3 linked regions of the Homo sapiens genome follow. Each later gene encodes a partner of the first gene's protein in a complex. Each region holds a gene or a part of one and is shown in the gene's direction. Other genes may lie near its edges.

Region 1 (4,757 bases):
CAGCGGCCTGGTGCCGCCCCTGAGCCCAGCCACACTCCCTGGACCCACCTCTCAGCCTCAGAAGGTCCTGTTGCCCTCCTCCACCAGGTAATTGCAGCTGAGCCCATACTCAGAGGCCAGGGAAGGGGTGGGGCGGGGCCGGCTTACCTCACTCCTCCCCATTTCCTCTCCTGCGGCAGAATCACCTATGTGCAGTCAGCGGGCGGGCACGCGCTGCCCCTGGGTACCAGCCCTGCGTCCAGCCAGGCTGGAACAGTCACCTCGTACGGGCCCACGAGCTCTGTAGCTCTAGGCTTCACCTCGCTGGGGCCCAGCGGCCCCGCCTTCGTGCAGCCCCTGCTCTCAGGTGAGGGGCGGCCTGGCAGGCAGTGCTGGGGACCCAGGGTGGGGCTGAGGCAGTCCGGGCCCTAACTTGGTCTCCTGCTTCTTCTTCTCTGTCTTTCAGCAGGCCAAGCCCCACTGCTGGCTCCCGGTCAGGTGGGCGTGTCACCTGTGCCCAGTCCCCAGCTGCCGCCTGCCTGTGCAGCCCCCGGAGGTCCTGTCATAACAGCATTTTACTCTGGCAGCCCTGCACCCACCTCCTCAGCACCCCTGGCCCAGCCATCCCAGGCCCCCCCAAGCCTGGTCTACACTGTGGCCACCAGCACAACCCCACCTGCAGCCACCATTCTGCCCAAGGGCCCGCCAGCCCCTGCCACTGCCACCCCAGCCCCGACTAGCCCTTTCCCCAGCGCCACAGGTAGGTGTCAGATCAACCCAGAGCAGAGTGAGTTGGGGGACCCAGGGGATGGGCTCCAGTCAGGCCTGGCTCAGCAAACAATTTTCTCCCCACTAGCAGGTTCCATGACCTACAGCTTAGTGGCCCCCAAGGCCCAGCGGCCCAGCCCGAAGGCCCCCCAGAAAGTGAAGGCAGCCATCGCCAGCATTCCCGTGGGGTCCTTTGAGGCAGGTGCCTCTGGGCGGCCTGGCCCTGCACCCCGGCAGCCTCTGGAGCCTGGCCCAGTCCGAGAGCCAACTGCCCCAGAGTCTGAGCTTGAGGGGCAGCCCACACCACCAGCCCCTCCACCCCTGCCAGAGACCTGGACTCCCACGGCCCGGAGCAGCCCCCCACTGCCCCCACCTGCTGAGGAGCGGACCAGCGCCAAGGGCCCTGAGACCATGGTGAGCGCCTGCAGGCCGTGGGGCTCCCACTGCCACTTGGCTGTGCCTCTCCATTGACGTCTTTGCTTTTCTGTCCTACTCTTCTTTCCATGCCTGTGTGTCTCTCAGGTTAAAGGGTCCCCTCTGTCCCTTCTGCCTGCCTGTGTTGTCTCCTCTCCCATCTGAGGCCCCTGTCTTGGCCTTCCTGAGGCCGTGTGACAGCCTTCTCAAGGGGTCTGCTGGGCGGGCTCAGATCCAACTCTTTGTTTCTGGCCTTTGCCCCAGAGTCTGAGCTCAGTGTTCGCCATCTCCCTGCCCATCTCCACCCCAGGCCAGCAAATTCCCCAGCTCATCTTCAGACTGGCGCGTCCCTGGGCAGGGCCTGGAGAATCGTGGGGAGCCTCCCACTCCTCCCAGCCCGGCCCCAGCTCCAGCTGTAGCCCCTGGTGGCAGCAGCGAGAGCAGCAGTGGGCGGGCAGCCGGGGACACCCCGGAGCGCAAGGAGGCGGCTGGTACTGGCAAGAAGGTGAAGGTGCGGCCCCCGCCCCTGAAGAAGACCTTTGACTCTGTGGACAAGTGAGCATGGGCTGGGGCCTTGGTGGAGCGTGTTAGGGTGGCGGGAGTGGGAGCAGCTGCAGGCTGAGGCGGGGGAGGTGACCCTGCCGGCCCTCCAGCAGGGTCCTGTCAGAAGTGGACTTCGAAGAGCGCTTTGCTGAGTTGCCTGAGTTTCGGCCTGAGGAGGTGCTGCCCTCCCCCACCCTGCAGTCTCTGGCCACCTCACCCCGGGCCATCCTGGGCTCTTACCGCAAGAAGAGGAAGAACTCCACGGGTAGGCGAGCATTGGGCACCCAGGGTCCTTAGGTGGAGGGCAGACTGGGGCCACCTGCACTGAGTCTGCTTCTGTTTGGCCAGACCTGGATTCAGCACCCGAGGACCCCACCTCGCCCAAGCGCAAGATGAGAAGACGCTCCAGCTGCAGCTCGGAGCCCAACACCCCCAAGAGTGCCAAGTGCGAGGGGGACATCTTCACCTTTGACCGTACAGGTGCCGTGGTGGGCAGAACTTTGGGGGCCTGGGGACCTGCAAGAGGAGTGGGTCTCTGGAAGGCGGTTAGAGAGTGAGAGAGGTAGGGTGGGTCCATCCAGGCTGGGAGGAAGCACAGCCTGTCAGTGGTGGGTTCTGGAGTCTGGCAGGCCCCTAGGTTGCCCTGTGACTGTGGGCAGGACCCCTCTCTGACTCCCCTGTGAAATAGAATGCAGTGAGGGCTTGGGTGGGCACTCAGACGGTGGCAGGAAGGCCCTGCCGCTGCTGCAGCCTTGCCATGCTGCCTGTGCCCTGCACAGGTACAGAAGCCGAGGACGTGCTTGGGGAGCTAGAGTATGACAAGGTGCCATACTCCTCCCTGCGGCGCACCCTGGACCAGCGCCGGGCCCTGGTCATGCAGCTCTTTCAGGACCATGGCTTCTTCCCGTCAGGTGAGCCTGTCTCGGAGTCTTGGGGTCACTCGGGTGGGACTTATCTGTACATCTCATCCTGTGCTCCCCACCGTTTTTCTATCTCCAGCCCAGGCCACAGCCGCCTTCCAGGCCCGCTATGCAGACATCTTTCCCTCCAAGGTTTGTCTGCAGTTGAAGATCCGTGAGGTGCGCCAGAAGATCATGCAGGCTGCCACTCCCACGGAGCAGCCCCCTGGAGCTGAGGCTCCTCTCCCTGTACCGCCCCCCACTGGCACCGCTGCTGCCCCTGCCCCCACTCCCAGCCCCGCAGGGGGCCCTGACCCCACCTCACCCAGCTCGGACTCTGGCACGGCCCAGGCTGCCCCGCCACTGCCTCCACCCCCAGAGTCGGGGCCTGGACAGCCTGGCTGGGAGGGGGCTCCCCAGCCCTCCCCCCCACCCCCAGGTCCCTCCACAGCTGCCACAGGCAGGTGAGGGACCCCTGAGAAGATGCCAGGACTTATAGTACCCCCTCAGGACATGGACAGTATGTGGGGGCAGGAAGGTTATCTCCTCCCGGGTAAAGCCATTTCGTCCTCTCCAGTTTGGGGCGGAATGAGGCCTGCTCCTCTTGTAAATACCCCCTTCCCTCGAAGCTCCCTCCCGGTGCTGGGGGGCAGCTGAGGGGCTGCAGGGGCAGTCTCCCTCCTCCAAGCCCCTGTACATAACCTGGAGCGTGTGACCTTCAGAGCTTTTCACTTTATGCAAAATGGCTCCTGTGAGGGCTGCAAGCTGGAGGGTGGTGCAGGCCTTGGGCCACAGGGAGGCGCCTGTGGAATAGGGGGAGTTCATGCACCCCTTTTTTCCCCAGAGGGGCTGGACTCAGGTTAGTTTGGGGGTGGGGGCTCCTGCACTTTGCCACAGGCACGGGGAGGGTTTTCTCCTCACCCCCTCTGCCCTCCCAACTTGGGTTGTACTTTCTAAGAAGGTGATTCCCCCTGCCCTTGCCCCCTTCCCCAGAACAAAACATGTTGATCATGTGCAATATTTCTTACTGTGCCGAGAAGCCGCAATGAGCGAGATTAAAGCTGTTTAACACACCTGTGTGGCTGTAGGCTCTTAACAGGGAGGGCTGTTGGTTGTACCAGTCCTGTCCTGAGTTGTCATGGAGCGGTAGGCTTTCCATGAGGTGGGGGCAACAATTCCAGTACCACTGCCCCCAACTTCAGAGGAACCCCATAGGCCAGGTCCCTGACTTGCTGTGGACCAGATGGCCCCTCTCCAGTTTAGGAGCCTGTGCGCTCCGGGAGCCTCAATGCCTGCTGGCCCTGTTCTCAGCCATTGGACTGCGTGAGTTTGGGGAAGGCCTGAGGCAAGATGCCACTGGATGGTTTACCCTCACTGGCTCTGGGGTCATTCGTACTCAGGAAACAGGTCCCAAGAGGTCCTAGCCCAGAGGTGGCAGTGGGTGGGAGGGAGCCTAGTCTACCTGGAATACCCTTGGTCCTCAGTGTGACCCCTGCTGCCCCCATGTGGCCTGGGCCTGCACTGCAACTGGGCTTGAAGGAACCTCCCCTGGGTGACACCCCTCCTGCTCAGCATGTGGACACAGTGCCCACCTGAGGTGACAAGATACCTACACCCTGTGTGGAGGGATGACAACTAGGAGTGGGAGGGTCAGGACACCTCCACAGAAGTGGCATCTAAGCTAGAGATGGAGCACCAGGAAGTTCCAGCCAGGGCAACCGCATATGCACTGGGTCACTATGTTCCCAGAATTCTTGCCTGAGCTTGGTCCTGTAGGATAGTGCTGGAAAGCTGGTCTTAACTAGTGTTTACTGATTGGTAACGCCTGCCTGAAGCACACTATTGTGATAGTGGAAATTAACCTAACCACAAGAATCACAGTGCCTTAATGGATCAGTGATACCTGCCCTGGGCAGAAATAGAACCACAGCCAGGCATGGTGGCTCATGTCTGTAATGCCAGCACCCTGGGAGGCCGAGGCAGGTGGATTGCTTGAGCTCAGGAGTCAGATCAGCCTGGGCAACATGGCAAAACCACTTCTCTACAAAAAATACAATAAGCTGGACCTAGTGGCACATGCTTATAGTAGCAGCTATTCAGGAGGCTGAGGTGGGTGGATCACTTGAGCCTGGGAGGTTGAAGTTGCAGTGGGCT
Region 2 (12,112 bases), on another chromosome or scaffold:
TGCGGGCGGGGAAGGGACTGCTCCTGCAGCCGGGACGGGACTTTGCGCGCGGCCGGGTGCCGGGCGGGGGGCGCAGAGGGGTGGCCTCGGGGACCGCGCGGGGGTAGCGGGTGTGCGGGTGCCTGGAGCGCGGCTGGAGTGGCGGTGACGGCCCTGGCCGCCGCCGCCACCGCCGCCCTGTTGGTGCGGCCGCTTCCTGATCATGTGCAGCGGCAGCCGCCGCCCGGAGCCGGGAGCCCGCGAGCGCCCCAGTCCGGGCCGGCGCCCCCGCCAGCACCCGCGGCAGGAGACGAGGAGCCGCGGCAGGCGCTGCCCTGAGCCGGGAGTGAACGGCTGCGCGGCTGCTGGGAGGGTGAATGAAGCCAGGAGGAGGGGAAGGAGGAGGAGGCGGCGGCCGCCGCGGAGGAGGCGCTGCGGGGATTGGGATGCGCCCTGGAGCCCCACTGCTCGTTCACTCTGGGCCGGGCCGGAGACTCTGCCACTCCCGGGGGCGCCGCCGCCTCCTCCTACGTGGTTCCAGTGCTGCGCGCAGGCCGGTCCCGCAGGGGGCAGGGAAGGGGGCCGGACGGGCGGAGCGAGAGGTGAGGCGGTGTCGGAGCGCGGCGTGAGTGTGAGTGAGTGTGTGAGTGACTGTGTGTGTGTATTTGTGCGCGCGCGCGCCGGGCGGGGGGCGAGGGCCGTCGCGACGCGGAGGGGGCCCTTCCTTGGCTACTTGGCTGACTCTGCAGCGCCCCGACCCCTCTTCAGCCCCCCGCCTTCAGGCTGCCTTCTTAAACTCCGTGGCTTGTGCTTTCATTTTGTTTCAGACCACGTAGGGGGCTGACTGAAAGGGATGAAACAATTCAGGTTTTCTAGGGAGATTGAGCAAGAACCTTAGTGGGGGTGGAAGTAGGGTGGTGATCGAGACTCTGCCAGAAAACAAAACAAAACAAAAAAAAATCCGTTTCTAAGGACGGCGGGGATTCGGTTCGAGCCCGTGGCTGCTCTGTTTTGTTTTGCTTTCTTGGTATATAATCCTACAGATAAAAGGGTAATATAAATATTTGAGAAGAGGGAAATTGCTGAAGAGTAGTAAGGGCAAAAAAAAAAAAAAAAAAAAAAAAAAAACAGTCGGAAGAAGCTGGTTATATAATGCGCGATGTGGCTAACAAGAAAGGCAAGCTATTTTTATTTTGTTTACCGTATGCTGTGCAGTAGGGACTCCTCCAAACTGGTTCTGTCCCCGAAGAGATTCTTAGCTTCCCTGCGAGATCCACAGGATACAATTAGCAAAATTAGAAGACCCTATTACACCCACAGAATAAAAACTAATGCCTTACAGTGGCTTTCTCCCTGCACATCCTGTCGTGCATGCACGGGAATGTGTGTATGCAAATAAGTTCTCCTTTGGCAATCTAGTAGTCACATCTCAATGACATTTGTGTTTTATAATGCAGGCTGTTTTTAATATTTAAACATCATTGTTATATATTGCACACAGCAGTGGGTAGTTACTTGGTTATTTTTAGGCACAGCTAGTTACTTTTTCAACAGTGTTAGCTGAGACATTTCTGTTTGGGTTTTTTAGGAGGCTGCAGTTCCTAGAAGCCCCCCTTAAGCCCACCCTTCGGTTTATTTGATGGGTAAAGGTAGTTTGATACTTGAGCTTTTTTTGGAGTGAAGCTTATGTCTGAGGAAACCACCAGAGAGAAGAGAAAATCCTGCACAGGAACTCTTGGAAAGGGATTGCACCATAACGGCTAGCGCTGTGGCATTTAATCTCCTCTGATTGCCCTCTCACTGTGCATGCATCAGTCAATATTTTAGCAGCTCCGCAAATAAATGGACTTGAATGCCATCTTCTACATAAAGCAGAGGTTGAAGGGCTCCCCTGAACCTCCTGGCTGCCTGTCAGTGGTGTAGGTTTTCGGTGCACTTACTCCAGTCCTGATCACTCATGTAATTAGATCAGGCTGCCATGGCAACAGACAGTGTTCCTCGTCCATTCAGGTGGGTTTGTCTTGTGCCTGAACTACTCCAAGTGTTTTATGCACAGCATTTATGCTGCCCAAGCCAGACGAGAGACTCCACTATTTCAATTGCATCTTCTTTCAGTCATTTGGATGGGAGACACTGAATGAGGCTTCTAGCTACTCAACTTTTATAAAGGAGACCAACAAGCTGTTCTTCCTAGGTGCAGTATGTAAATGCATCTCCCCAGACAGTGAAAGGAGCCTGACAATCCTGCTGGTGTTTATTGTGAACAGATCAACAAGTATTTGGTACTTGTTAGAAACCTTTCAGAGCTCACTAAAGCAACATTTCTTTTGCAGTCTGGTGCCTTTGGCCTTGCAGTCAGTCACTTAACCCTTTCAAGTGTGAAGAGCGTTCATCATTTGGAACCTCCATTGCCCATAGCGATGGCTGGATTTCTAAAGGGTTTACTCAGGGGAATAACTTATTCGGAAAATATATTCCCATTGTCACATTTTAAAACTTGACAGCCATCATAACAAAAACTGGTACTGACAGTAGGCAGACATTCTGAATGTATTCATTCTTAATTTGGATCTATTGGCTGTGATTTGAATGATCTTTGGTAGTAAGTTAAAAGGATTTTTTTTTCCTTAGCTAAGCGAGAAACGATAGAGGCCTATAGCTAGAGGACTGATAGTGCATGGTGCTTTTGGACAATAAACATGTACTTTATTTTAGGATGTAATTTAGTGAGCAGTTAGAAAGCAGTATTCTAGTCTTTGCATTAGGGCACCACTGATAAAGCTGGCTAAGCAAAGAGAAATAATATTATGGCAAAAAGGAAAAAAGGAAAAGTTGCTTTAGTTGCTGAAGCTCTGTGCTGCTCAGGCAATCCAACTAAGTGGGGCAGGGGGCGGGCGGGGGGGAGTATTTTCATAACCCTGGTATTTGAAAGAAAAGATAATTGAGAATTATGTCTTGATTTAGTTGTGACTGCCAGTCAGTTTACAATTTTATGGCCAACAAAGCTAAACTGGTAAATTTTTTCCCCCAGGGCTAGGATTGAGAGAGCTACTCAACTCTATTCCCAGGGGGTTTATGAGTTTTTACCGTTTTGTGAGTTTATGTGGTTGGTAAATTCATTGTGGCCTGGTCAGATGAAGCACTGCTGTAGTTAAAATGAGCTATTATTTCTTCTAGCTACTCAACTTTTATAAGGTGGTAAATAGATGGGAAGCAAGGATGTCAATATTACACAATGCCTTGGAGGTCCTGGATTCTATTTTGCAACATATAGAAAAATGCTTTACTTGCAGTAAAATGTGAACATATATTTTTCAGTGCACAAATAAATTCATGTGAAAATAAGTATAAAAAAATGTACCTGGTGGGAACCGCCAAAGGCAATATTTTTCCTTGCGGATTTCGTTTTAAGAGGGTTTGGTAAACAGAAGTGACACTTTGTCAAAAATGTTACGACTAGACTTCAGGACTTCTGAATTGTCTTTTACACTTAGAGGAAGATTAAACAGAAACTCTTTAGCCACAAGATTACATGTCAAATGCCTGTAAGTTTCAACATACCTAAGTCAGTTGCCTAGGAGTCCTGGGAAAGGCCAGTGCTGAGATTATTGAAATATTAGTAAACATTACTATGACTCCTGTTTTTGTTGTCATTATGGAGTCCAAGGACGCACATTTCTTTGAATAATGTTGTGCCTTTATTGTTTTTCATTCTGAAATGTCAAGTGGATTTTACTTTTTTGCACATACCTTGAGTGACAGTTTCTGATGACTAACACTAACACTCATTTTGTTTCCTATTAAAAGTTAAGCAATAAACATATTTTACTAAAATTCTGAAACTCACGTAAGTAGGTAAATGTGGGAGTGAATGTTAATTCTTTAAACTGTAGTTATCTGAAAATAACACATAGATTAGGATCTGAACAGCTTAAATACTTGCATCGGTAAAGTGACAATAGTGAAGTAAGACAGGCTATTATTTTTAGGGGAGAGATAGATTATTTGACTTTCCTTGCTCTGTATTTTCAGAGTAATTCAATAGTTCGAATGATTAGTTTCTGTGAGAGATTTAGATCTGTGCAGCTTAATTGCTTCAAATAACAGATTTAGTTCTGGTCATACTTCCAAGGTTATCAGAAGCAGGCCCTCCTTATTTTGATAAAAGCATTGAAAGCAATACATTGTAGAAATGGTAATAGAAATAATAATTTCTGTTTTAGGACCTTACATATAGAACTTCCTTTTCTAAGATAAGAATTTTAAGTCATCAATTATGTTCACATTTTATTTTCATGTAATTTAGTTTAATAAAATAAATGTACTCATTCAAAATTTTTTTAAGAAGTGATATACAGTGTCAGTTTTACAGAATTTTTTAAATGTTGGCTGAAAGAACGGTAATTACATTGAGATTTTTAAAAATATATAAATGCTTAAAATTACAGAAGTAATAAAAAGAATGGTTTTAGACAAATCTTATGGAAAGTTTTTTATTTTATTCTTTTATAATTATATTTATGGATATTTGTCTTTATTAGTGTAGTAATATATTTTATAACGCTCATAATTTGAACTTTCAGGCTAATGTACTATAAATATTTGTATTACGCATTACTACCATCCCAAATGTACCAAAACACGTTTAGAGAGAACAATTATGGACAAAAAAGCAACAAGCATTATATTTTGTTTGACATATTTCATGTTAGCAGAAATGTTTCATTGATTTTTCTGTAACTTTTAATGCATCCCATTTGTGGAGTAATGAAAATGTAATGATAATTGCCACAATGTAAGCAAAAATTGTATCCTACCTGAAAATTACTTTCCAGAAAATTCATGGTAGTGTACTCAGAATTTGAGACTCAAGAGGGCAGAGGTTTCCCCGATTGTGATGTTTTGATTTGGGCTAAGAGGAACTCTTTTTTTTTTTTTTTACACTTAGGTGCCCTTTAACATGACAAGTTTTGAATGAGTTAGGTAGCAGAAGTTTTTCGTGACAGTTATTGTAGCTACTAACCTATAGCATCTATCCTTCTAACGTTCAAAGAAAATATATTTTTCTGTCACTGTGTATGGCAAACTTTATTTTCTTGTGCCCTTAATTTTGTTCCCCTTTCTCACATTATCTCCTGGTACTTACTGACCATTACCTCAGTTTTGTTTAGGCCGTCTTTCTTGTTAATCTTCCAATATTAATAGTATTGTATTATGTTGCTCTGCTGGGTTTTAAAAATATTGAGTATTCCATTTTTGGTGTATATTATTGTATAAAATGTCCTATAAATTATTTTCTGGTATATTATTTTGTAAGTTTTTGCAGTGAATACGTGCTGCCTTGCTTGTATTCTTGCCTTCTTCCCTCTGATGGAATACAAGTTATGTAAACTCTCTGTATTATCCTAACTAGTGCAGCAACACAAATACTTTTGAAATAAGAAAGCATACTCATGCAAGAGTAAAGTAATCTTCTATGGCATTTACATCATGTTTGACCCTCCTCTGCACTTCAGCAAACTAGGAGGAGGTTGTAACTTGGACTCTATAAAACCTTATCTGCCAGGTGATATGTAAACAGGATTGTGTGCACACACATTGTCATATAGGCAAACACTCTCCCAACTGGTGAGCTCATAAAAAGCACTGTCTGTAAATTTATGGTACCTGCACCTCATTTGAGAATCAAGTATTTTGATGCTTAATTTGAGATGACATCATGATCCTCCCTCCCTGCTTCCTCATCCTTAAAGAAGTACTAAGATTAAATAGAATTTTGTCAACTTCTACTTAACTTGGCCATTATTTATATTTGTAACTCAACAGGCTTCTTGGTGGAGGGACTGTGCCTTCTAAAGATCTGAAAGACCTTATAGTGTATAACAGCTTACCTTCCTTCTCTGTACGCACAGATCACATGTGGGGAAACCAAGGACTACAAGAATTCCTTCTTTTGCATATCAGTCCTCGGCAGGCAATCAATGCTTAAATAAATGCTTGGTGAATGGATTAGTTAGAAGTAAGAACATTTTGGCTACTGTTCATTACTTTGAAAAGTGCTGGAAAGAAGTGGAAGTTATTTTCCTTTCCAGCTGGGCTGTGCTCTTAAAAATAGTGAGTGTGTATGGATGAAAATAATCATGAGTACCGAGATGTGTTGCCATGTACCCAAGGATAATTGGCTCACTTACCTGTTTACGGATTATTCACATTGGAGATCATATTCATAGCTCCAGAATAGTTTCTTTCTGACATCCAATATAAACCTGGGCCTCCTTCTTCCTACTGTTACCTGGCGTGAGCTTAGGAAACCCAAACTAAGTTTAAAATCAGCCTAAGCAAATGTGCAGATCAGCTCCAGTAATCAAAGACTGAAAATCAGTCCAGCATTCACTAGTTTGGGGATGATTTTATAGTAACCCTGCTACTGATTTTAAAAAAATTTTTTTTTCTGTTTAATGTGGATAATTGGTAATTACCGGTATTTAAGAATATAATTTTAATGGATAGGGCTAAAAAAATACGTTAGCAGATCGAGTCCTCAACTTCTTCCGTTTCTATGCATAGGTTTTACCTCACAAAAACTACTACAAGCACCAAGCTCCCTGATGGAAAGGTATATGGAAGATTCATTCATTCTTTCTTTCATTCATCCATTCACACATTCACTCATTCATCATACAATGGAAAATTTTTACTTAACCATGTGCAAGGAATTGTGGCAAAATGAAAATGAGATGTACATTCAGTATTTAAATAAAGTTTAGTGGAAAGTTTAGTGAATATAAATGCACACTTTACACTTTTTTTCTGCATTTTTTCCTTTCTTCTATTCCATTGGACTGGTATGCTAATAGCTGTGCACTTTCATCATTGTGTTTCAAGTTGCATGTTGATAGATAATATATGCCACATTAAAATTAGGCTTTGGCTCAATTACTATTCAATCCATGCCCATTTTCACCTGATACTCCTTGTAGTTACCAGCATGTGTTTATCAGATGATTGGCTAGAATCATTGGAGAAAAGAATGACAGCGGCTGGCTCAAATGGGGAGACCATCCTCTTAATTTGATGGAAGGGATGACCTTTTTGTATGTTGGCCTCCCTCTGAGCCTTGTTGAGTAAAACCAGACCTGCCTTTTGAGCTGGCTGGGATCTGTGTAATTCTCATACAACAGAATGCCGAATGTGATGTTCTTAAAATTTGTATTTCGGTGCATAGACACTTAAGGTGGACTTATTTTTTAAAGCAGTCTATTCTGTTTTTCATTTTGGATTTCCTCTCCTGCACTCCCTCGACCATTGCAGGAGCATCGTGCATCAAGTCACCAGGGTGGTCCATTCAAGCTGCAGATTTGTTTGTCATCCTTGTACAGCAATCTCCTCCTCCACTGCCACTACAGGGAAGTGCATCACATGTCAGGTGAGAGTTTTGCGATGCTCTCTGTTTTCCATCTGAGGATAAAGTCCTGACCTGGAAAATTGCCTCCTAGCCATGCTCCCTTACTTTGTTGGCTGTTGAATATCATTTTCTTTGCAAACTCTGTTTGGGCATAGTGTGGGAAGTTGAGAAATTGCCAAGATTGTTTTTTAAAACTTCGATTAAAGTATCTATCTATTTGGTTTAATCTATATGTTCATGAAGACTTTCATTTGACTTTGCGATGATTGATAATTGCCAATTGGGGCTTGAACCTCATCATTTTAATTGTCAGTTTTCCTTAATACAATTAAGAATGCTATGCTACCAGATATCTTAAGTCACAGTTTTTGCATTTTAGATTACTGTTGTAGTATAATATGTGCGTAGCAAAACAGAGACCTATTTGTTTAGGGGAACCAGTATTTGTTGAATCTTGAATTTCTTTGTGTCTGTTTGGATTTTACAACTTCCTGATTTTCCCACGTACAGTAAGTTTTTCTGGCCTGGAGAGTCATGCAGACATAGGGTGTATGCAATGGTGATGACTCATGGTTCTCTATTGAAGAAAGGGCCAGAGGATATTGCCTCAAATTAAATCAGGAAGGAAAAAGAGGTTTGCTAGAACTTGGGGCAGTAAGGGCTTGGGAACACAAGGGTTTGAGTGTATGTAACCAAGGGAGATTGTGAAATAGAAAATAGGGGATCAATTTCTATTTGCCTTGGAAATGGACCTGCTTGAAACTGTGAAGACAGACTAGATTAGAGGTTCCCAAGCCTGGCTAGGCAACAGAATCACCTGGAGAGCTTAAAAAAATAGAATTTGGAGCTCCACCCTAGACTTGATGAATCAGAATGTTTCCTGCTGGAATCATTGATCTGTCTAGGCACTGATGCTCCACAGGTTTGGGAACCCCTGGGTCGGCCGGTCTTCCAGCAACTCTTCCTAAGTTATGTTCTGTAGACTTAGTTGGTGAGAAGCTCATTCTACTTTTAGCAAATCTCCCATTTGAAAATTTGAATTTTCAAAACTCATTTTTCAAGAGGTAGATGGATATTTGCTTTATAACAGGTTCATTTAAACAATAATTGACCAGATTTCTTTGAAGAAAGAGCTGCCTCTTTACCGTAAGAGCCAATTTTTAAGTTACATATAAATTCTCTGGCATCTTAGATAAGAGCATGGAGCTCCGTAATCAACCCATCTGGACTTAAGATCTGGAGCTGCCACTATGACCTTGAGTAGTCCTATGTCCTTTCAATGCCTCAGTTTATTCATGTATAAGATGGAGGTAATATTAGAACTTTCTTATAGGGCTGCTGTGAGGATGGACTGGAGTAAAATAGTAGATATACTGTGGGTAGAATAGTACCTGGTGTATGGTTTGTATCTTTTAACAGATGCTATCAAGTAACTTATCCCTCAACAGGTTGATTGTTATGGTCATGTTTTATGATGGTTGCTCCTGAACCATACATGACTAGAAATATGTAAATATACCTGGACCTTGGTCTTTGGACCCACCCTGTAGACATCTACGGCTCTGCAAAGCCAAGGAGCCTTTTATTTGTTTTTGCTGAATTTTAAATTCTGAATTTATCACAACTCTCTGACTGATGGGATGCATGTGTGGTTTTTTTTTTTTTAGATTGTTGTAAAATGAACTGATGAATTGCATGCATAAATGTGGTTATTTGTGGTCTGAGTAAAAATAAACAAAAACCTGAGTGACTGAAGTATTATGCCTCAGGAAAAACAGCCAAAAAAGTCCCAGTGGGGGACAAGGTGGAGGAGGGAAGAGTCATCACAGACACGATACTCTTGTAAAATATGGAACTGGATTCCTTACATTTTATTGGCTGTGGATTAGAGAGGTGTTCTTTAAGTGGAAATGTAACCTAAAGTTACATGCAAAGGTAAGCCTCTTAAGATCTACAAGTGTCAGCTGAATGAAAAAGGTAGGGTGGGCCAGGCACAGTGGCTCATGCCTTTAATCCCAGCACTTTGGGAGGCTGAGGTGGGTGAATCACTTGAGGTCAGGAGTTTGAGACCAGCCTGGCCAACATGATGAAATCCTGTCTCTACTAAAAATATAAAAATTAGCCAGGCATTGTGGCAGGTTCCTGTAATCCCAGCTACTTGGGACACTGAGGCAGGAGAATCGCTTGAATCCTGGAGGCAGAGGTTGCAGTGAGCCCAGGTCTCGCCACTGCACTCCAGCCTGGGCGACAGAGTGAGACTCCATCTCAAAAAAAAAAAAAAAAAAGAGAGGAAAGAAAAGAAAAAGGTAGAGTGTCTTACTGCTACTTTATCTCTTAGGGATGATACTCATTTTAACGGTTATGTGCTAGGCTGAAAATCCTCACATTTAGATCTTTGGGGAAATAGTTTAATTGCAAATGGGTTGAGTACACGTGCATTTTTTTTAACCTGTGGTGTTGAAAGGGAGTCATTTGTGATAACAGAAATATCTCAAGAATTTTATTGTGAAAAAACAGGCAGCAAAAAGTCATATCTCTTGGTCAATATGGGCAGCTTATTGAGAAGAGACCTAGGTTTTTATAATATGTTAGGCAAGTTTAAGTGTCTTATGAATACTAAAATACTGACGAAGTAGCGCAAAGTCACCTTGAATTTTAAGCGCTGACATTTTCTATGATTGCATTTAAAGAAAGCTTATAAGCATTATCTAAACATTTTGCATCAATAATGGCCTCATTACAGTCCTCACGATTGACGGCTCAACGTAGGCAGAAAAATAGTATCATTCATGTTGTACTCTTTTATATTCATTCAGTTTTTTTCTTAAACCTACATTATAGTTCTTTCTGGTTCTAGTTATTTTATAAATATGATACAGCTATAGCAAGTTATGACCTAACTTGTTCACAGTCACTATTTATGTAAAGAAATGATTCATTCATTTATTCATTGTGAATTTTTTTAAAACTACTGCATGGTGCTGTGGGAATGGAAGTGAATAAGAGCTACCGGAAGGCAGTTATTTTCTTCCTGGTCAGGCAGGGGAAAGAAGAAACTCTCTGAAATAATGAATACGAATAGAATGGGGTTCTAACAGTGTTCTAACAGTGAAGGAATTCAGAAGAGTGACGCTGAGTAGGAGTGATCAGGAAAGACTTTGAGGAGGAGGGATCACTTGAGTTGAGCTCTGCTGACTAGATTGCATTTCTGTGGGAAGAGATGGATGGAGCATGAGGAAGGCCATGTGTGTGTCTGGGACATAACAAGCCAATGCACGGTATGTAACTGACCAGGACATTTTGACTGAAGCCTAGGTGCTGGTGGACATCTGAATTTCTGGATTCGAGCAGACAGTAGAGAGTATGGGAATAAAACTGCCGAGAGGTCAAGTCTGAAGATAAATTTGGAGGAGTCCTTGGCATAAAAGTGATCTTTGAAATTGGGTTCTTGGGCCTGGCAAAAAGTTTGACACCCAGGAGGGGGATGACTGAATTCAGGGATGACGTCAGCTGGTGTAGAATGTGTAGAGAGAAGGTAAGAGGCAGCGGAGAGTAGCTTCAACATTGATGTGGCATGGCCTTCGTCTGCCTTCTTTTCATGATCTGGGGTGAAGGAGGCTGGGTGGCTGGAGGAGTTGGGTGATGTATGCGTGGGCCATAAGGACTCTTCTGCAGCTCAGGCACCTTGGAAACTCAGTGCTGAACTACAGTTCAATGAAATCTTGTCAAAACCTCTCTTCCTTTAAGACCTTTAAAAAAATAGGAACTTGAGCTAATTTTAGCTAAATCTAATGTGTGTGTGTATAAAAATGAATGCTGCGTTTGAAATTCAGCGTATGCGGTATCTCGTTAAACAAATGATCCTTCTATTTTCCTCTAAACAGTTTTATTAAGATTTTCAGTGAAGCCCTGTACGTTTTAACAACAATTCCAGCATTTCTTTGATCTTTTCTACCGTTGATTTATTCATCTCACATGATATGCGTAAATCACAATGTGCCATCTACTTGACTCTGTAGCAATTGTTCATTTGTGGCAATTCATTTACTGTACTTTGATAAACCACATTAATTTGGGTGTGTTTTGTAACTTTAGAGGATTCCCTGGAGGCTTTCTGCAGACTCTTTAAAATGTGAGATGTGTGTGTTTTTGTGCGTGCGTGTATACTGTATATACCTAGCTACTAGACACAGCTCTTTGAACAATTTGGCTTCCCATTTATACTTTATAGAAAATAAAGAGATATAGAATTGGTGAATCTTGGGTCTGGGGAGAAAGTTAGTCTAAGACTTCCTGATGTAAAGTGAAAGAGAAGGCTGGAGATGATGTTACGATGATGTTAGTGAGCAGTCTGATTTAATGTAATGAGAGAAAATTTGAGGATTAAGTTGTGGTTTTTTTTTTTGGTGCTGAGTTAGTTAGGATGGGCTCTCTGTGTAGCCCAAAAGGGCTCAGAATAAAAGCAGTGACTTATTTAACTTTCATCAAAGACAAGAAGGTTAAGACAGGAACAAGAGGGATGGAGCAAACAACTCCAGGGGCAGATCGTTCTTGTCTGCAATTATTTAATGAGCATCTAATGTATGAGACGCATTATGCCAACAAGGCCCTCTAGGGAATATGGAGATGATCAATAGTTCACATTTACTATTCTGCATATTAACTTATTGAATCCTCATTACAGTCCTTTGAGGTAGGCATCATTATTTTCTCCATTGCACAGGCGAG
Region 3 (13,045 bases), on another chromosome or scaffold:
AACTCCTGACGTCGTGATCCACCCACCTCGGCCTCCCAAAGTGCTGGGATTACAAGCGTGAGCCACCGTGCCCAGCCGTGTGGTCCCAATCTTCAGCAACAACCTCACCTCCCACCTCCTTGCCTGCTGCCCACATGCACACCATATCCCAACAAATCTGTTCCAAAATCGCCACGCCTTCTCATGACTCCTTGCCCTGTACATGCTGTTCCTTCTCTCTGGGATGCACCTCTCCCTCTACCAATGGCTGGGAACATCTTAAGACCCATTTAAATAAGTCATCTCCTCTGCAAAGCCTTCACACCTCCACACACTTGGCACCCGATGTGACCTTCTTCTCAAAGGCACAGGCCATGTCTTTGTCCCCTAGGTCTCCCCAAGGCCTAGCAGACACTCAGTGAATGTTTATTAACTGTTTAATGAATACGAGTTTTGTCCTCATCCTGGGGGAGCTTGACAAGACCTACATAAATGAAGTAATTCATTTCTAAAAAGTGTGATGCAATCTAGAGGTAGAATCGCAACTTCAACAAGAGAGAGATCTTTGTGGGTCACGGAGGAGGGCAAGTCTGGGGAGGGAAAAGCCTTCCAGGTAGGGACATCAATGACAGCAAAGCTCCCCCAACCTTTTCCAGAGAGAGAAAGATGAGATCCAGGCTAAGGCTTTTCCCAGGCTCCAGCTTTTGCACACTGTCCATGCATGGCTTTTGCTTTTTTTTTTCTGCCACGTAGACTGGAAACCCAAGTATAACTGCAGGGGATGTGCTATTTTCAGGCTGCCCAGCCTCTGAAGCCCCTTCCTTTGTTGGAAGAATTCCCCGCTTTATGAACCTTAGTGGGAAGTGGAGCCCACTTTTCACTTTGAAAGGTGTACATTCCAGATACTTACTCCCCCTAGCTTATCTTGAACCTTGGCGTGGCACGTGACTCGGACCTGGCCAGACACCACAGCCAGGATTTTGAATCTGGAGTGAATGACCCAAAGCAGCAGGGACTGTGGAGAATTCCTTTGTGGGGCAGCAGCAAGGCTTAGTGTCATGGATTTCAAATGAGAGTAGAGGGTCCTGGACCGTGTCGGCGTCCAGGTTCCAGGACCTGGTGCCACGGAGTCAGTGCAGCATGGTCTGATGTCTGCTGTTCAGTGGCAGAAGCAACAGGGATCTCCCTGGGAGAGGTCTGCAGGGTGATTTTGGCCATTGGTTCTAGCTGCACACCCTCCCAGCGCCTGCTCATTCGATAAGCCTGCTTCACCAGCCTTCCTCACAATCAGTAAGAAGTAATAGTCTTATATTCAAATCCACTAGAGTTGGTTTCTTTCGCTTGCAAATAAGGACTCTGATATAGTAATTAATACAGACCAAGCAAGGCCCCTGGAATTCAGGAAAGGGAAGGAAAATATGCATTTTCTGAGCATCTACTAGGTGCTTACTAGTGTTCTACAAAATTCAGCTAATGTTCCTAGATGTGCTTTTTTCCTGGATGCTTTGAGGATCTTGGAGTGATAATTTCATCTGTGCTGCCCAGACCTCTGAGAGTGCAGGGGCTGTCAGAGCCCTGCTTCATCAGCATCATTTCCAGGCCGAGGTTTCAGCATCAGCCTCCAGATCCCAGCCCTGGCAGGGACAGCTTATATGGCAGCTACAACTGTCCAGCAAAGACCCAAGACTGCCTGCTTTGGCCTGGTGAGCTAAATCCTCATTTCACTAACTTCTTGCGTTTTTTATTTTAATCTCTCTCATTTGGTCTCATGTCCTAAATCTCTTGGCTCAAGAAGCGACAAGTTGCTACCTTTTGTCCTCTATTTCAGGAAGTTTGTGTGACGGTTGTAGCAGCTGGATTCCGTCTGAACACATTCCAGCAATTTGTCTGCTGCAGGATCCTTCAGAGTGAGGCTGGCCACATCAGTCTGGTCAGCTGCATCTCTGAGTTTCAGAACCAGGATCAGGGAGTGTGGCTGGGATCGTTTGCATCAATTATAGCAATTGCTGTCCCTAGGCAGAGAGCATCTCATATTAATAGCTGAGTGGGTTGGCAAAACTCCTTTTTTTTCCAGAGGTGACTTTTGATATAACAAACTTTTATGTATTTTGTCTAGATGAATGAGGGCCCCAAATATCTTACCTGGGTTTTCCCTGGTTTAAGGAAATCCAGAAGAGAAATCATCCAAATAAATCAGCGTGATTGATCACATTCAAAAGGGTTCTTTTCTCTCTCTGCAAAAGGTTTCTTCACTGGGTTCTCTTAACTGTCAGGCCTTCTGGTGCAGTTGAGAATTTGTTTACAGAACTGGACATGACTAAGGGGAAGGAGGGCGGTCAGGGGCTGCCTGGATCTTCCAGCCCCTCCCAGCTAGAGTCACGGGTGCCTCCAGCTGTGTGCTGGAGCCTGGCCAGAGCCTGAAGCTGTCCTGACCAGCAGCCTCAGCTCTGTCCTTTGGGCACTGTGCACTGGCCTATGGACTCCTCCTTCCATCCTTTGTGAATTCGTGCATTTGGCCATTGCTTTCTTGGCACCCAGCGTATCTGCCAAGCACTCTGCTAGGCACTGGGGCTACACAGGCAAATCACATGGACGTAGCACGCCCTCTCTGAGATACCTTCAGCTATTGGACAAGTGGACCAGGGGAAGCAACATCAAGTAACTACCTGCTTGGGGAATCCAGGATGGGGGAGCTCACCTAGCTGAGAGGGGCTCAGAGCCCTAGAACACCCCATGGAGAAAGTGCCATTTCCTTGAAGACCTGAGAGATGAGCAGGTAGCCAGGGGAAGATGGCAGCAGAGCAAAGCCCAGAAGAGGCTGAAGCAGAGAGAAGGAATGGAGCCAGGAGAGAAGACAGGAGAGGAGTGGGGGAGCTCCTCACCAGCCTTCCTCCGTGGAGCTTCCTAACAACCCTGCGGGGTAGGACTCTTACTACCATCATCCCCATTTTATAAATGGGGAAACTGAGGCACAGAGCGGCCAGCTGACCTGCCCAAAGTCACATATCTTGTGAGTAGTGCAGCCATGATTTGAACCCAGGTCATCTGGCTCCTGAGTCCAACCACCATGCTGAGCTGCAGCTGAGTAACGGTGAAGGGTTTTAAGTCACAAAGCAAAATGAAGGTCACACTTGCACTTTTCACAGAGCTGCTCCTGCTGAAGGGGTTGAGGGTAGCACAGTGAGTCTCCCAGCATGGCCTGTGCTTTTAAAGTGCCCATGTGCTTGGTGCTGAGCTGGTTAGGGCAGGAGGGGGAGAGGCAGAAGAGTCCTCTGCACCATGGCTGCCTAGCTCTCCTGGCTGGTCACATTCCGACATTGTATCCAGATCCACCTTTTCGGGAGTCAGCCCTGTCCAAAAGCAATTCCAGCACAAACAGAAACACCTGTGCCTTCCTCCCCTTTCCCAGGGGCCCCTCCACTGGGCAGCAGGAAGGATGGAAACACAGACTGGCATGACCTCAGTTGCTGTCCCCACAGGGGTCCCTTTCACTCCATAGCCTTCTGGTGCCTGAGCCCACACTCATGTTTCCCTTCTCTCAACTCCCATAGCACTTATTGTGAGAAGCACACAATCAACTCCTGTGTGCATTGTTCTCTAGCTGTTTTGTGGTCATTCATCTCTTCAACTATCTCGAATTGTCTGGAGATGAGTCATAATTAGGGAGATGATTATGTACCAAAACTTAAAAAAATCCCAACTCTCATATATGTCCAGAGAGACAGAGAGAGAAGGTATATGTCTACATATAATATGAAGCAAAAAATATGAAATATAATGACCATTTTTTTTGTGATGATTAAGGCTAATTGCTGCGTACCTAGGGCCTGCCTGGGATATATGGGCCATGTACCCCGATGCTAACTGGCCCTGGCCTCTCCAGGTTTTTCATGAGCTCTTTATGGGTTTGTTGTCTCTGCCTTGTCCACTGATTGCCTTGCATAGACCATAGATATGGGCTCCTCAAAGCCCTAGCTGTTACTCTACTCAAAATCATCTGCGGAAATGTGGAGTAGATTTCAGATGAAGTGTCGGGACTAATTCTGCTCCCACCTTCTAAGTAACCACTTCTAGACTGCTGTGGACCAGGAAACCTGGTAACTGAACATCTTGCAACTGAAGAGAAAGGGGATCTTCCCTGCCTTTGCTGACCTCCAGGTTAGGCACCCACCTCTGTGCTCTCGGTCAAGCTCCTTCTAAGCACAGACTGTATCTTAATCATGCTGGAAACCCCAGCCCTTAGGACAGCATCTGGCACGTTGAAGATCTTTAAATATTTTGTGGAATGAATTAGCAGGAAATTGAGTCTGAGTGAGGGCCTGGAGAACACTCCTCTACGTCTTGCATGTGTGAGCATCAGTGTGTGATCTTGCGACAGCTTTCTGATGGCTCAGGGACCTTCTGTTCTGGCTTGAAGGTTCTGGGTGTATTCTTCCGAGCAGATGCAATCCTGTATCTACGGAACATCTGCTGAAGACACAGCTCTGCCTTGCGTGCTTTCCTTCTGTGACTTTACTATTCTAGTGACTCTGCATATGGTTGGGCACATACTAAGCACACAATGCCAATGGTCAGCATTATTGGAAATGCGTCCTGAATGGTCTGGATCCACTCTCCAAACAAGCCTTCACTGAATGCCTTCCGTGGCCCAGTAAAGTCACCAGGGACATGGAGGTCAGATGTAACTTCTCCCACTGGGAGGTAGCAGTCTGATGGTGGCAGTGGGAGAGGAGGGGAACCATGTAGACAATTAAAGGGAACAGACAAGGGACAAGAAGGCACCTCTTTCGCTGCTGGATGTGTCGAGCGTAAAAACAGAGCCTTCCGTATGAAAATAAAATCAGTTGCTGACTCAGGGGTAGATACATATTCATCCACCCACCAACCTCAAATAACTAAACATTGTTCCCAGGCCAGCAAACACTGGAGCTTCTGTCTTCCATTGCAGGTAGCACAGATTCTTGTTTGTTGTAGTAGAAGATAAAAATCAGACAGACCTGTTTTTAAGTCTTTACTCTAAAGTTTACCAATTGGGATAGGTAATTGAACCTCTCTGAGCATCAGTTTAGTCAGCCAGTGGGAACTATAATACCTAAGTTTACCCAGCTGTTGAGCGTTCACCGAATACAAGATAACAAACAAACAATCAAACAAACAAACCCTTACCCTCAAGAGGCTCATGGTCTGGTAAGGGAGAGAAGAGAGACTGATATGTTGCAGACATACATTAAAAGCTATTAAAAGATATCCATATCTGGCCAGGCGTGGTGGCTAACGCCTGTATTCCCAGCCACTTTGGGAAGTCAAGGTGGGCAGATCACCTGAGGTCAGGGGTTCAAGACCAGCCTGACCAACATGGTGAAACCCCATCTCTACCAAAAATACAAAAATTAGCCAGGCGTGGTGGCATGTGCCTGTAGTCCCAGCTACTTAGGAGGCTGAGGCAGAAGAATTGCTTGAACCCGGGAAGTAAAGGTTGCAGTGAGCCGAGATGATGCCACTGCACTCCAGCCTGGGCAACAGAGTGAGGCTCCATTTAAAAAAAAAAAAAAAAGATATCTATATCATTTGTTGGGTAAAAAAAAAAAAGGTTACTAAATGCATTCAACAGAATACACACATGTATTTATATGTATGTGTACGTGTGTAGAGAGAGAGATTTATTATAAGGAATCTGCTCACACAGTTATGGATGCTGGCAAGTTCAAAACCTGCAGGCCAGCAGGCTGTAGACCCAGGAGAGCTCACGTTCCCTCTCTAGTTCTAAAGGCATCTATGGGGGACCCAGGAAGGGCCGGCGCTTCGGATGGAGTCTGAAGGCAGTCTGCTGGAGAATTCCCTCTTGCTCAAATAAGGATGCTCTTTGTGTGTTCTTTTCAGGTTTCTGATTTGATGAGGCCCACCCACATTAGGGAGTGCAAACTGCTTATTCAAAGTCTACCGATTTAGGCCAGGCACAGTGGCCCATGCCTGTAATCCTAGCACTTTGGGAGGCCGAGGCAGGTGGATCACTTGAGGTCAGGAGTTCAAGACCAGCCTGGCCAACGTGATGAAACCCTGTCTCTACTAAAAATACAAAAATTATCCAGGTGTGGTGGTTCACGCCTATAATTCCAGCCACTCGGGAGGCTGAGGCAGGAGAATCGCTTGAACCAGGGAGGTGGAGGCTGCAGTGAGCCAAGATCACACCACTGCACTCCAGCCTGGGTGACAGAGCGAGACTCTGTCTCAAAAAACAAAACCAAAAAAAACACCACCAACAACAAAGCCCACCGATTTAAATGTTACACCCTCAAAGAAACACCCAGAATAGTGTTTGACTAAGTATCTGGGCATTGTGACCCACCAAGTTGACACATGCAACTAACCATCACCCTGAACAAAGTGAATCAAGTTTCAAACTAAGGAATATGTAGAAAAACTTTCTTGACCAGGCTCCCTTGATTTCCCTGCCTGTGTGTGACTCTACGAAACCTCATTTAGCACCCACAGGCCAGAGTTGGGGGGCAACTTTCTCTGCCCACTGCACAGAAGCACCAATAATAATTATATGAAGAGTTTGGGTGAAAAGTCCCACTCAGATGTTTGCTTGTCACTAAACTAGCTGCCATATGGCAGGAAAGGAAGAAGTTTCTGGTGATCCACTGGTCTGAGCAAATAAATCACTGAAACGATTTATGAGAGTGAGCTTAACCTGAAGGACTCATTCATTCTGAAATGTACATGGAATGTAGCCATTCTGTAGACCATTAACTGCACTAATTACAACAATGATTCAAGAGATAAGCTTTCACTAAACATTTAATAAAGTTCTAAGGCTCCTTGCAGCAGGATAGCATCCTGCCAGCGCCGTACCCCACCTCCAAGCAGAGGGAAAGAAGGAAAGAAGAAAACACTACTTATGGAACACTTGCTATATGCTCAGCATTTCCCTATGTGACAGCTCATCTAATCTCCAAACAACTCTTTGATGTAGCGATGATGATGATGATTTTTGAGACAGGGTCTCACTCTGTTGCCTAGGCTGGAGTGCAGTGGTGCAATCATGGCTCATGCCAGCCTCGACCTTCTGGCCTCAGGCGATCCTCCCATGTTCAGCCTCCCGGGTAGCTGGGACTACACGCATACGCCATCACACCCAGCTAATTTTTATGTTTTTTGTAGAGACAGGTTTTTGACATGTTGCCTACACTGGTCTGGAACTCTTGGGCTCAAGCAATCCACCCACCCCGACCTCCCAAAGTGTTGGGATTACAGACATGAGCCACTGTGCCCAGCTGGGATTATTTTTATAGATTACAGGTAGAGAGAATTGAGTTTCAGAGAAGATCAAGGTATCCAAGGTCAAATCACATATAAATAGCAGGGCTGAATTTAGGGTCTTCTGGCTCCATGTTAATGTGCTCCTTTTTGTTCCAGGAGCTTCTTCATACCAGGTAACTTAGAAAAAATAATAAGAACTTCATAAATAAAGTAATAATTTCTCAGTACTCCCTTTGCTAGCTGTCTGTTCCTTGCACTTCTTCCCAGTATGTTGGATGTGATGCTTAACAGGTTTCACATTTATTAGGGTGAAGCTCCTAGAAGACAGAGGCTGGTCTGATCCATCCTAGGATCTCTACAGCATCTAGCAGAGATCTGGGGAGACTTGGTGAGGCAGCCTCAGCAGTGGTTAAAAAGATGGGCTTTGGCACCCAAACTGCATGGGGTCCATATCCAAGGTTCTGCCGCTCTCTAGCTGTGTGGCCCTGTACGTCATGCTTGACCACCCTGTGCCTTAATTTCCTTGTCTGTGAAATAGAGATAGTGAGTATAATAACACCTACTTTGTAGTTGCATTAAGCAGATTGGATAAGTTAATTCTTGCAAAAGACTTAAAATAGTGCTTGACATATGCAATCACTCAACACAGGTTAGCTCTTTCTGTGTCCAGGGACTTCAAGTTCCCAGAGCCTTGTTTCTCTCCAACCCGAGTTCTTTCAGGCACAGAAGCCTTTAGCTATGTAGAGGGTCCTCTGAATCTTCCTAAAATGCAATTTTATACTGTGTTATTGGTTGGAAGCAGTTTTTACCCATGATTCCAGATGATTGCAACTAGATGAGTTGGTGTTCAATAAATATTTGATTGAATGAAAGCAGAAATTTCAGAGACTAAGGTACAGAAAGCAGCAAAAACTTGCCCAAGGTCACTGGGGGAGACCACAGCACAGCCTAGACTTTCTGACAAAGAATTTAGTGTGCTTGCTCCTTCTGGTAGTCCCTCTCTACCACAGAGGTTCCATCCCCTGACAATTTCCTCTCCTGGGTCTCTATCCCCCATCCACCTCCACTGGCTTCTCCCCTTGCCCGGGTTGCCTCTAATTTTGGTGAGCTTGAAATTCACTGGTCATACAGAAGGCATTTTATCTGACCTTCCACATGCAAATTCTTTCCATTGGGATTTCTCGGTGTCCAGCTCCACCCCAGCCCACAGGGCCATAAACACTCATGTGTCTGTAGCGGGGCCCCAGGGATTCCAGAAATAACAGCAGGGCCCTCCATTAGAAGGCTGGAACATAGTAAGGCATTTCTGCATTAAGACACAGGCCCTTTCCAATCCAGGCCGCTCCTGTCTGTCAAAGCACAAAGCAACCTTCACAAGTCAGGACAGGGAGGGGCAGTCAAGAGGGAGTCTGAATTTCTGGAAAGTCGGCACCTTCTCCTCCCATCTGTCTGCACTCTCAAATCTCCCATTCTAGAGATTCTCCGGATTTGCTCCAGTCTCCACTCAGAATGGGAAATTCTTTATGATCCATTCTCCTTAGACCTGCTGGAATCGGGATCATAGCAGCGTGAACCCAGAGGGCAATTCTCATCTTAAGATGGCACAGGGACCACGCGCCAGACGGGCAGGGCAGCCACCCTACCTGGATGGAGTTAGGGAACTGGGGAAGTGCAAGGAGAGACAGGAGTGGTTTAAGAGGAAAGGGAGCTGCCAGGGATGACCCTGAATGGGAGGGGCCTGGGGGAATCTTTCTCGCTTCAGCAGGGTGTTCCCCAGGAGGAGAAAATCAGAAATCAACATCCAGGGAGAGGATTTCAGCTTTTCAAGTGACCTCTCACAAATAATACCAGAAACAAAAGCGTGTGCACATGTGACAACGATGTGAAAAATGATGTATTTAGGTGCATAACCTGGAAAGCCTAAAAGATACATAAAAATTGCTTTTTTTTTGCGGGGAGAGATGTTATGGGCAGGGTTTTTTTTTGCGGGGGTGGGAAGGGGTAGTAATAGGTGTTTTCCTGCAAATTGTGCTTAATGTCATTTCTCATTTTAAAGAAAACCACAATACTTGGCATTGTCACAGAAACTCCCCTGGATCTTCTGGGACCTACCTTTTCACAAGGGAATTTTTTGTTTTAGGATGCCCATCTGAAAACTTGAATTTATCATGTAAATGCCATACTGAAGACACCGTCTCCAGAATCAATTCTTCTTTAATGGGGATGCGGTTTGCTTAATTCGGAGCCCTAATGGCAACGTCATTAAGGTCTGGGTTTAGTGTCTTGGGATCCAAACCTTTGTCACGGATAGAAAGGTGGAGGAAAGAAAGGCCCCCGTGCTCTAAAACAGCTGAATATGTCACCCTCCGAAGTCCAGCCTCGGCCAGAGCCCGTGAGATGCAATGCACCATCCGCAGCGGGAGACGCAGCCGCCGCCTAGGAGGTCGTGCGCGCCTCTGGGTCTCGTGCCGCACCCAGAAGTGCCGGGGTGGCGGGGAGGCTGAGGGGAGTTGGTAACGGCATCGCCATGGCAACAGTGACGTCCTTTTACCCTGGATCTAATTGGAGGAAACCCCGTGGCCGAAGCCGCAGCCTGCCGGCCAACCGAACTTCCCCGTACCGACCCACCCTCCTAGCCTCCGCGTTCCCTCCCGCTCCGCCCCCCTCGCCCCCTTCCGCGCGCTCGGTCCTCATTGGCCAGCGGCGCGCTGGGGGCGGGACTCTCGGGAGAAGCTCGGCGCATCATTGGGCGGTGGACCGCCCCTCGGCCCCGGGGTAGGCTGACACGGGAGGGTCCTCAGCTAAAGCCAAAAGCAGATCAAAGTGGTGGGACTCGCGTCGCGGCCGCGGAGACGTGAAGGTGAGCGCCTGGGTCGGCCCGCGGGCTTCCTCCGGCCGCGCTCGGATTGAGGGCCGGGCGGAGGTGCCGCCCTTGAGAGCAGCCGGTTGTCGATGCCGCTCCCCTCAGGGACGGCTCCGGGCGGGAAGGTGCGGGGCCAACGGTCGCTTCCATCTTGGGCCGGCCGGGCGGGGGTGGCGGGAGCGGCCGCGGCTCGGGCTCCCTGCGCGCGGGGCCTCCGCGCCGCCCCCGCCTCCTCCAGCCGCGGGCCGCGGCCTCCCCGGGTGCCCAGCGGGGGAGGGGGCGGGGGAGAGGGAAATTCAAGCGGCCGCGTGTGCGGGAGACAAAAGCGGGCGGCGGGCCGCATTGTCTGACGGCGCTCCCTCTCTGCTTTTTGTTCTCGCCTCGCCGCCCCGCCCCTCCGCAGCTCTCGAGGCTCCTCCCGCTGCGGGTCGGCGCTCGCCCTCGCTCTCCTCGCCCTCCGCCCCGGCCCCGGCCCCGCGCCCGCCATGGAGAAGACTGAGCTGATCCAGAAGGCCAAGCTGGCCGAGCAGGCCGAGCGCTACGACGACATGGCCACCTGCATGAAGGCAGTGACCGAGCAGGGCGCCGAGCTGTCCAACGAGGAGCGCAACCTGCTCTCCGTGGCCTACAAGAACGTGGTCGGGGGCCGCAGGTCCGCCTGGAGGGTCATCTCTAGCATCGAGCAGAAGACCGACACCTCCGACAAGAAGTTGCAGCTGATTAAGGACTATCGGGAGAAAGTGGAGTCCGAGCTGAGATCCATCTGCACCACGGTGCTGGTGAGTCCTCGGCGCGGGGAGCAGGGGAGGCCTTTTGTGAGATGCTTTTCATTGAGAGTTTCGCGGGCACGGAAACAAACGTGAGCCGGGGCTTGCCGGACTGTCTGCTGGGGTGGAGGGTTTTAGGTGAGCCCTGACTTCCCTACTGTGTCCCTCCGGTTGTTGAGACTCAAGAAGCCGCTTTTCCAAGGATAAGTCCTTTTTTTTCGCCCCAGATGCTGGGTAGCTACCAAACGATGGAACTTGGAAACATCCAAGTAGGTCTCTGCGAGACTGAAAGGCGTTTTTAAGTTTCTTGTGCGGGGAGACTGCGTCCTGAGATCTGTGAGCCCTTTAAATGTATTCAGTCGGTTCACAAGCTTCAGGCAGTTGAAAGAAGGCGCAGGCACCTTTTTGTTACAGACAATGTAGTAGGGATTTTTTCCCAAACCCAGTAATGGAAATTTACTTAGAAAATCTGAACAGATACTTTATTTTTCAAGTAAGAGTATCTGTTGTGCTCCCCCCCACCCCCCATAAACAGGAGAGGAGGGGAGTTCGGGAAATGTGAAAAGGACACAGCTGTATCTGAAGAACACAATGTCCTGGTAAATTTCAACATTTAATAACATTTCCTTGCTGTTGCACACCTGTGCTTAAACACTAGTGTTGAAGTGAATTCGTTTCCAGTGTGGAGCAGACAAGGAAAGCTTTCCAGGTTTTGAACTGTCCAGTCTTAGCAAGGACGATTGTTGGGTGGAGTAGGTGGCTGCTGTGATTCACCCTTATTAGTGAGAGAGAACATTTTTAGCTTTGTCATTCCATGGATCTTTTGATCCGTAGGATAAGTTTTTAAAACTGAAATACCAGCATTATATCCAGGAGTGTTTTTAAATGTTTCAGTGCTGCCAAGAGTCATTTCTATGAATAAAATGGGAAATAATCTCATATGGTTTGCCTTTTAAGTGTCACTTTTACAAGAGGCCTACTTATTTTTGATGTGTTTGTGCACATCATATTTTAGGTGGGCTTTGATAGACAAGCATACTAGACTGGGGATTTTTCAAAAGGGAATGGAAGAAATAATTTCTCCCTGGCCTCCTCCCCCACCCCCACCCCCCAAGCCGCCTTTCTTCATCTCATCAGAATGGTGGGGCAGGGAATATGTTCCCCACCCCTTGTTTAAAAAAAAAAAATCCACGAAACTTTTTTAACCTATCTATTTTTCTAATACGATGACAGGCGATCCGGACAAAATCATGGCTGATGGAAATAACTGGTAAAGAGGCAAAGAAAGTAATGCAGACAGTGTGTACTAAAGTGGAGAAAACTTAAGATTATTTACTTTATGAAGTCAAAACTTCGTTGTATTCTTCCGTGTGCTCTTAGCTTCCAGTCCCTGCTTGGCATTGAAGAAGCACTTGTAAAAGCTTTTTGGACTGAATTGCTCGTATTAAAAAATTTTGCCAACTTGAAAGTAGTGGTAGACTTCAACTTGAGTAACATATGGTAATGGCTGTTAACAGCATTATCTGTTACCAAGGGAAGACTCATAAGAATTCCATATGTTAAGGTTTTCTATGTATGTATTTTGGATACTCTTACAGCATATTTCATTTCTGTTCAGTTTATTGCTTTTCAATTAGTTACCTTGAAGCAATTCAGAATCACCGCGTGATTTTTCTTGTTCTCGAGCAAGGTGACTCTGAGCCAAAGGAATATTCGTTTTATTTTGTGGCTCTTATAAATTCTGCTTTTTATGATGGCGTAAGTCGGGGAAGAGTTTTGCTTAGTTGATACGTAGCTTGAGAGAGAGACCAGGTGTTATTAGAATAGAACTTTCATACAGACCATTTCAATGGGGACAACCCCTGAATTTAGGACAGTCTCTTTTATATACTGAGAAGACATAGAATAGTTTAGTTTGATGAATCCGAGACACCAAGGCATAAATGAAATATTCATAAAATGGCTTAAGAGGCTAACTGGGGCTTGGTGGCCAACCTATAAAAAATATCTTGGGAAAGCACTTCTTCAAGTTGGCAACTGTATTGAGAGCTTTCTGTGTGCCAGGCACTGTGCTCTGAGCAATATGGGGAGGAACAAAACAGAACCGTGGATTTTGCCCTCTGATGATTTATAATTTAGAGAGCATGTGAGAGATACACAAACATAAATACCA

Evidence for each region.
Region 2: the proteins of CIC (region 1) and ATXN1 are in contact, whole or in part, in an NMR structure (PDB 2M41), measured with the Homo sapiens proteins. Residues at the interface, in NP_001291744.1 of Homo sapiens: Val943, Phe944, Pro945, Trp946, His947, Ser948, Leu949, Val950, Pro951, Phe952, Leu953, Ala954, Ser956, Gln957; in NP_000323.2 of Homo sapiens: Pro572, Tyr573, Phe574, Ser578, Ile579, Ile580, Gln581, Leu582, Ala583, Leu587, Val590, Leu593, Phe598, Ser601, Ala602, Leu608, Asp611, Ser613, Phe631, Val633, Ala638, Gln639, Val640, Val642, Tyr648, Pro649, Phe650, Phe651, Trp657, Ile683.
Region 3: the proteins of CIC (region 1) and YWHAQ are in contact, whole or in part, in a crystal structure (PDB 6KZG), measured with the Homo sapiens proteins. Residues at the interface, in NP_001291744.1 of Homo sapiens: Arg1207, Ser1208, Met1209, Ser1210, Glu1211, Thr1212, Gly1213, Thr1214; in NP_006817.1 of Homo sapiens: Lys49 (codon at 10,735), Arg56 (codon at 10,756), Lys120, Arg127, Tyr128, Gly169, Leu172, Asn173, Val176, Tyr179, Glu180, Leu216, Ile217, Leu220, Asp223, Asn224, Leu227, Trp228.

What each region holds. Positions count from the first base shown.
Region 1 is NC_000019.10:42,292,121-42,296,877, forward strand, and holds the end of CIC (protein capicua homolog), read left to right. Parts: coding exon 1-87; intron 88-179; coding exon 180-346; intron 347-445; coding exon 446-739; intron 740-835; coding exon 836-1,161; intron 1,162-1,471; coding exon 1,472-1,716; intron 1,717-1,814; coding exon 1,815-1,969; intron 1,970-2,052; coding exon 2,053-2,184; intron 2,185-2,483; coding exon 2,484-2,615; intron 2,616-2,703; coding exon 2,704-3,071; 3' UTR 3,072-3,676; downstream 3,677-4,757. UniProt on the Homo sapiens protein: Transcriptional repressor which plays a role in development of the central nervous system (CNS). In concert with ATXN1 and ATXN1L, involved in brain development.
Region 2 is NC_000006.12:16,748,526-16,760,637, reverse strand, and holds part of ATXN1 (ataxin-1), read left to right. Parts: intron 1-453; exon of another isoform or gene 454-581; intron 582-6,546; exon of another isoform or gene 6,547-6,595; intron 6,596-7,290; 5' UTR 7,291-7,405; intron 7,406-12,112. UniProt on the Homo sapiens protein: Chromatin-binding factor that repress Notch signaling in the absence of Notch intracellular domain by acting as a CBF1 corepressor. Binds to the HEY promoter and might assist, along with NCOR2, RBPJ-mediated repression. Binds RNA in vitro.
Region 3 is NC_000002.12:9,627,998-9,641,042, reverse strand, and holds the start of YWHAQ (14-3-3 protein theta), read left to right. Parts: upstream 1-10,045; 5' UTR 10,046-10,102; intron 10,103-10,508; 5' UTR 10,509-10,590; coding exon 10,591-10,884; intron 10,885-13,045. UniProt on the Homo sapiens protein: Adapter protein implicated in the regulation of a large spectrum of both general and specialized signaling pathways. Binds to a large number of partners, usually by recognition of a phosphoserine or phosphothreonine motif.